2 linked regions of the Homo sapiens genome follow. The protein of the gene in region 2 binds, or shares a complex with, the protein of the main gene of each other region. Each region holds a gene or a part of one and is shown on either strand. Other genes may lie near its edges.

Evidence for each region.
Region 1: SF3B1 (region 2) and SF3A2 share a complex: the UniProt entries of both Homo sapiens proteins name them as parts of the 17S U2 SnRNP complex.

The regions. Positions count from the first base shown.
Region 1 is NC_000019.10:2,234,748-2,238,347, reverse strand, and holds the start of SF3A2 (splicing factor 3A subunit 2), read right to left. Parts: upstream 1,525-3,600; 5' UTR 1,447-1,524; intron 1-1,446. Other genes in the region: PLEKHJ1 (pleckstrin homology domain-containing family J member 1), read left to right, coding at 2,100-2,193, 2,358-2,425, 2,520-2,586. UniProt on the Homo sapiens protein: Component of the 17S U2 SnRNP complex of the spliceosome, a large ribonucleoprotein complex that removes introns from transcribed pre-mRNAs.
Region 2 is NC_000002.12:197,393,214-197,397,157, forward strand, and holds part of SF3B1 (splicing factor 3B subunit 1), read right to left. Parts: intron 3,116-3,944; coding exon 2,843-3,115; intron 1-2,842. UniProt on the Homo sapiens protein: Component of the 17S U2 SnRNP complex of the spliceosome, a large ribonucleoprotein complex that removes introns from transcribed pre-mRNAs.

The DNA of each region.
Region 1 (3,600 bases), on a different chromosome or scaffold from region 2:
CCATCTCTACAAAAAATACAAAAATTAGCCGGGTGCAGTGGCTCATGCCTGTAATCCTACCACTTTGGGAGGCCGTGGCAGGTGGATCACCTGGTCAGGAGTTCGAGACCAGCCTGGGCAACATGGCGAAACCTCGTCTCTACAAAAAATACAAAAATTCGCCGGACATGGTGGTGAGCACCTGTGATCCCAGCTACTCGAGAGGTTGAGGCAGGAGGATGGCTTGAGCATGGGAGTTTGAGGCTGGAGTAAGCTGTGATTGCACCACTGCACTCACTCCAGCCTGGGTGACAGAGCAAGACCCTGTCTCAAAACAAACAAAAAACCGATGACGACCAGGGGAAATGAGCTTAAGAATTGAGGAAAAGTGGCCTCTGGGACCTGGGACTAGACCATTGAGAAGGAATTAGTTTTTCGTGGCAACACCGTTCTCTCCTTAACCTAGCCAACAACCTATTTTCCAGAGCTCCGCCTGGCTGTTTGGTGTCGTCCAAGGATACACAAGAACAACGGTCACAGCGGGGTGCACCTGCAAAATGGGGCCAGCTAACGTGTTCTGGTCGCCTTTGGCATGATGTTGAAGCCGTCACTCCCATTTTAAGGGAACTGAGGCTCACAGGAATTACATCACAGAGCCCCAGTCAACTAACAGGTATAGATGAGCATACAGAAGCGTTCTCGGCTACAAGGAAGGCGGCCGAAACCATTTCAGCCGCGATCCCGATTCGACCCCAACGAATCTTGGTTGTTTCTTTTTTATTTTGTCAAACAGGGTCTTGCTCTGTTGTCCAGGCTGGAGTGCAACGGCACAATCACAACTCACTGCAGCCTCGACCTCCTGGACTCAAGCGATCTTCCCGCTTCAGCCTCCAGAGTAGCTGGGACTACAGGCGCGCGTCACCAACCACGCCCGGCTAATTTTTTTTTTTTTTTTTTTTGCAGTGATGGGGTCTCGCTATGTTGCCCAGGCTGGAGTGCAGTGGTGGGATCATGGCTCACTGCAGCCTCGACATTCCGAGCTCAAGCGATCCTCTCGAGTAGCTGGGCCTACAGGTACAACCACCACTCCTGGCTAATTTTTTAAAATTTTTTGTAGAGATGGGGGTCTCGGTGTGTTGTCCAGGCTGGTCTCGAACTCCTGGCCTCAAGCGATCCTCCCGCCAAGGCCTCCCTGAGCAGTGAGATTACAGGCGTGAGGCCCCGCGCGCGGCCTCCCAACAGGAGTTTGGAAATAGAGTTCCTGGCGGGCCCGACCCTCCAGGCCCGCCCAGCGCGGGGCCTCAGGATGCACAAGGCCGGACGCTCACGGGAGGAGGGAGGGGAGCGACGCCGCCGCCCCACCCTCGGCCCGCGGCCTGTCGCAAGCGCCTCTCTCCTACGTCCGCTGTCCCCCAGGGAACCCCCGGTCCGCGTCGGCCGCCGCCCTCAACCGCCTCTACTCCTCACCAGAGCCCAAGGCCGCGTTATCTCCTCCTCGTTTCGCCACCTCCACGACTTCGTTTGGCGAACGGCGGGCAAAGAAAGCACTTCCGGGGCAAATGAGACGGGCCCTCTGGTGTGCGCATGCCTGGCCCGCCCAGCGGCGTGAGTCAGAGGGTCCCGAGGCGCGAAGGAAAAGGCTGGAGGGGGAGAGGCTGAAAGCGCGGCCTGGAAGGCAAACTGCGCGTGCGCACAACGCTCTCAACGAACCCTCGGTCCGCTGCGGCCGCACGGGGCCAACTTTCGCGAGGGAGCGGCTGACACTCTCCGGGCGACGTTATCGCTCCCTCCGCCTGCGCCTGGCCGCTCTAGAAAGGGGTGCCAGCCATCGCTGGGGTGCCTTGATTCTGTTCCACCTTGGTCCGGTTTATTTCAGTTTAATGGTTATGTAACAACGGTCCGTCTCTCCTACCAACCGGTACCCCGCCCACGCCAGCAGCCACGGGTCGCCAGCGCCACGCAGCGGAGGCGGGCGGCATGGCTGGCCCAAGGTGCGCAGGCGCACTAGCCCTGGGGGTGCTTCCGTGTCTGCGCCCTGAGACATTTTTGGCGCCGGCCCCAGCCTGAGCGGGGACGGCGGCCGGGAGGGCGCGGCCCGGGTTCCCGTTCCCCGCGGAGCCATGCGGTACAACGAGAAGGAGCTGCAGGCTCTGTCCCGGCAGCCGGCCGAGATGGCGGCCGAGCTGGGCATGAGGGGCCCCAAGAAGGGCAGCGGTGAGCGGGACCCGGGAGACCGAGACAGTGCCAGGGGCGGGAGGCCGGGGCCGGGGTCTGGGCGGGGGTGCCGGAGGCCGGAGTCCGGGTCGGGGCGCCGGGGACGGGAGGCCGGGGTCCGGGCGGGGGCTGCCTGCGCCCCTGAGTGCGCGCTGTGCCCGCAGTGCTGAAGCGGCGGCTGGTGAAGCTGGTGGTGAATTTCCTCTTCTACTTTCGGACAGACGAGGCCGAGGTAGGGGCGTCCCGGGCGCGCGGGCGGGTCCCAGGCTGGGCCCCTCGGAGGCCGGGTGCTCACTGCCCCGTCCCGGCGCCCGTGTCTCCTCCAGCCCGTCGGAGCCCTGCTGCTGGAGCGCTGCAGAGTCGTCCGGGAAGAGCCCGGCACCTTCTCCATCAGTGAGTGGGGCTAGGGAAGCCAGCGGCGCTTCCCGCAGCCCGGGGCACCCGCAGCGCCGCACTTTCCCCTCCCCGGGCGCCCAAGGTCTCCTCTGTGTCCCCAGCCTGGCGCCACCCTCCTCAAACACAAGAGTGCATTGTCCACGGGCAGCTCAAGGTCAAGTTCTCCTGGCGGGCACCACCCTTCCCACCTGCCGAGTCCACTTAAGCTTGGGTCCCTCCCAGACTCTGCTCTTTGTTCCCTGTGGGCCCAGGCTGTACTTACAGGGCAGGTGGGCCAGCCCCACCCAAAGCGTTTCCCCAGCTGCCAAGAGTAGCATGGGTCTAGCATTGTTATATGGCCCCGGGCTGGAAATCCCAGGTGGGGGTAGGAGGAGTGAGAGGGGGGTGTTCTCCTGGGTCTTAAGAGATTCCCTTCTGCGGGGAAAGATGGAGTCCCTGCTAGTTTGCCCAGAGTGGCTGTCAAAATTCCACAGGCCAGGTGGCTTAAATATCAGAAACATTCTCTACAGTTCTGGAGGCCAGAAATCCTAGATGAAGGTGTGGGTGGGGCCGAATCCTTCTGAGGCCGAGGGGAATCTCCCAGTTCCTAGTGGTGGCCAGTATCCTCCAGGTTCCTTGGCTTGTGGAAGCGTCACCTTGTCCTCCTTGCATCACGTCTGTGCCCACATTTCCCCTTCTACACAGACGCCAAGCAGAATTTAGGGCCCACCCTGACAACCCCTTTTTACTTCACTTTATTATTTTATTTGCTTATTTTTTGAGACAGGGTCTTGGTATGTCGCCCAGGCTGGAGTGCAGTGGTGCAATCTCGGCTCCCTGTAACTTCCCCCTCTCGGGTTCAAGTGATTCTCCTGCCTCAGCCTCCCGAGTAGCTGGTACTACAGGCACGCGCCACCATGCCCAGCTAATTTTTGTATTTTTAGTAGAGACGGGGTTTCGCCATATTGGCCAGGCTGCTCTCGAACTCCTGACCTCAGGTGATCCTCCCACCTCGGCCTCCCAAAGTGCTGG
Region 2 (3,944 bases):
TTAAGATGCGGTCTTATAAGAAAGGGGGAAAAATCCTTAAAGATACAGTCTTAGTTTTACAGGAAATATTCACCGGCCCATTAGAAACTAAATTACTAATTCAGTGCACTGAATAGATGTGAAGTCATCTAACATTTCATATATCTAATATATCCTTTAGAATAGCTTCCACTTGAGGACTTTTGCTTTAATTACTCAAGATTCACTATGGCTCAACAATTAAGCCATATTTTCTAATTAACTTTTTTTTTTTTTTTGAGACGGAGTCTTACTCTGTCACCCAGACTGGAGTGCAGTGGTGTGATCTTGGCTCACTGCAACCTCTGCCTCCCAGGTTCAAGCAATTCGCCTGCCTCAGCCTCCTGAGTAGCTGGAATTACAGGTGTGTGCCACCACGCCTGCCTAATTTTTGTATTTTTAGTAGAGACAGGGTTTCACCATGTTGGCCAGGATGGTCTCGATCTCTTGACCTTGTGATCTGCCCGCCTCAGCCTCCCAAAGTACAGGGATTACAGGCGTGAGCCACCGTGCCTGGCCATCTAATTAACTTTTAAAAGGAATATGAGCAGGAGGGCTCTGTGAAGTCTTGGCTTTATTATGCTACTAAAGAGGAGGCATGTGGTTCTAACATATGAATAATAAACAGTAATATTTTAAACTTTTTTCTCTTTTTTAAAATTATTTTTCAGGCCGGACATGGTGGCTCATGTCTGTAATCCTAGCGCTTTGGGAGGCCGAGGCAGATGGATCACCTGAGGTCAGGAGGTCAAGACCAGCCTGGCCAGCGTGGTGAAACCCCGTCTCTACTAAACATACAAAAATTAGTAGGGCATTTTGGCACACGCCTGTAATCCCAGCTACTCAGGAGGCTGAGGCAGGAGAATCACTTGAACCTGGGGGGTGGAGGTTGCAGTGAGTCGAGATTGTGCCACTGCACTCCAGCCTAGGCAACAAGAGTGAAACTCTGTCTCAAAAAAAAAAGAAAAATTATTTTTCTTTTTTATTGTTATTGTTAGAGATAGGGAAGGCCTCGCTATGTTGCCCAAGCTGGTCTTGAGCTCCTGGGGTCAAGCGATCCTCCCACCTTGGCCTCCCAAATCATTTTAAACTCTTGATTATAAACTTAAATCTTTACTAGTACTTCAGATACTGGTATATAATAGGTAACTAAATTAAAGTTAAATTCCCTTCTCACGTAAAGTTTAAGTTTCATTCAATAACTCAATTTGGGGAGAGGAACAAAAGATCAATAATTTTTTCAAACCTACAGAAATAACTATCATCTCCTATGTTAACTGAATTTATGTTCATGAAAAATCAATGAGTTATTCATTCCACAATTATTCAACCAAGTATGAGCTCGCTGGCTAACACAATGGGATTTGCAATGGGTATGAAAATGAGTTTCCAGGCCGGGCACGGTGGCTCACGCCTGTAATCCCAGCACTTTGGGATGCCAAGGCGGGTAGATCACGAGGTCAGGAGATGGAGACCATCCTGGCTAACACGGTGAAACCCTATCTTTGCCAAAAATACAAAAAATTAGCCGGCCATGGTGGCACACGCCTGTAGTCCCAGCTACTTGGGAGGCTGAGGCAGAAGAATCACTTGAACCTGGGAGGCAGAGGTTGCAGTATGCCGAGATCATGCCACTGCACTCCAGACTGGGTGACACAGCAAAACTCCGTCCAAAAAAAAAAATGAGTTTCCACACTTTGCTCCAAAGATAGTAACACAGACCATATCAAAGAGAAAAGAGAAAAATACTTGTATTTACTAATATTCTTGTTTTTCCTATTTATTTTAATAATGTCATTCAGCATAAGAATGAAGCAGTATTCCTCATTAATAAAATTTCCAACTGAAGTATTCTTTTCATTTAGTAATTTTCAATGGAATTACTCCCTTAACTTCTTAGTACACAGAAAAAAGTTTTTAACTGCAGGTGACATACATTAATGACTGCACTATGGTGCTCAGGCACTTCTCACTAAGGAATACAGAGCAAGGGTGATTTACCCTCATTTTTTTTAGCCCTGGGCAGCCAGGCTTTTACAGAGCACAATTCTTACTTTGTCTCCATGTCTTGCATATATACGTTCTGGTAACTTGTCGAGTCCAGTTAAGTCTCCCTTTCAGAAGGTTATTAATGAATAACTTAAATCTGTACACAAAAGTATTTGAATGGGCTCTGATTTGAGTAACTTATCTCTCCTGAAAAATAAAGAGCCAGTGAAACAGTTCTTTCCCTTACTACGCTTGCACTTTCCTTTGCACTTTCTTCAGTTACTTCTGTGTTTAAGGCTGTACGTCAGTCTAGATGGTAAAAGGTATTAGCAATCTGTCAAATAACTTGAACAGTACTCTACTGGTGGTCACCATCTGAAACACCAGGGACCTGCAACAGGAAGAGTGTAGTTCTGGCAGGCTATTGTTCAGTAATTCAAAGGCTTAAGAGAAACCTGTCCTTTACCTGCAACAAAAAGCTAAAAAGATCAGGTCTCTGCCCATTAGCTTCTGCTCATCATGTCCTCTAACTATATTTGACCAATTTTGAAAACAAAAGATTATCAATCAACCCTTTTCAAAATTTATTTAATTCAATAGATAAGAAAAGAGATTTAAAGGGGATGGGAGAACTTGAAAGAAAGTCTGGGGAATCACTACAGCGTGCACATTATTTTAAAATAATAAGTCATATTTACAATGTCCTAAGACTCCAGGCTAGCAATTTTTTCTTTAACTATGTTACAGTAAAAAGTCATCTAATAACTATTTCACGATGTTCTAAAATGAAGGAAGAGTTATAATTATTTTCTTGTATTTAGTTCAAGTCACTTACCTATCCATTAAAGCATCTTCAAGTAACGGTGTTACGGCATAAATGTAGTCTTTTCCCATTTCACCAATATATTCAAACAAGAAGGAAAGCGATTTTAACACTCCATTTTGAACATTCAGTTCAGGAACTCTGTATTCATTCATTAAGGCAGGGAGTACTGTAAAGGGTGAACATGTTTCTGCAACAATAGCTATTGCTACAGTGGTACAAACTCTGTTCTGCCTTTCTTGAACTTTGAGGTTGTTCAGAAGTGTAGCCAATACATCATGAGGGCTGAAAAAAACAAATGGGTCAACAAGCTGTTACATTATAAGTCAAAAATTTATGGAAGAAAAAAATGCATAAAGATGAAAACTTTTAAGTATTAATAATTACAGGGAACTCAGTAATTTTATAAAATGCAATACTTTCAAGTCACTGGCATTGTTGTTTCTATATAAAAATTTCATATAAATTAAAAGGTCAGTTTAAAAAAGTTGACTCTGAGAAGATCAGAGGTCATAGCTGTACAAATTCTAAACATTTTAAGTTAACTCAATTTTCAAATGTAATTTTCAGTTCTTAAACTTTCTGAAATATAAAGAAATTTAACTAAATGTTTAAAGTGAGTAATTCTCTGAGTTGTCAAAATGGGCACTAGAACTAGGTAGGAGTGGTGAGGGGAATATCCGAATTGTAGTCTCCCATTATAAACCATATAAAATCTCTTTTCCTTTTATCTTTCCTCCACACAATTTGCTGCATCTATTTGCCTCTTCTTTGACATAAACTTAGAGGGACATTGGGGCTAAAAGCTTGCACAAAAGCTATTCTTGCAAATGTCTTGACTCCATCACCACTGAAATAAATATTATGCTACCAAAATAGGAGAGGAATGAGTATGTGTTAGGGGAGGGGGTGTTGTCTGGTATAATTCTACCTAATTAATCAGACATTCACATGTCATATTCCTTGAAAACATTTTCTTAAGCCACATGGACATGTGGTGTCTCGTTTTCTACAATGACTGTTTTTTCCTATTTTAGTTGTGATGGAGTGGAAGCAAACCACCACAGATTATCTCACAAAGCAGCTATAATTCAGTTAAATCCGTGGAGTAATG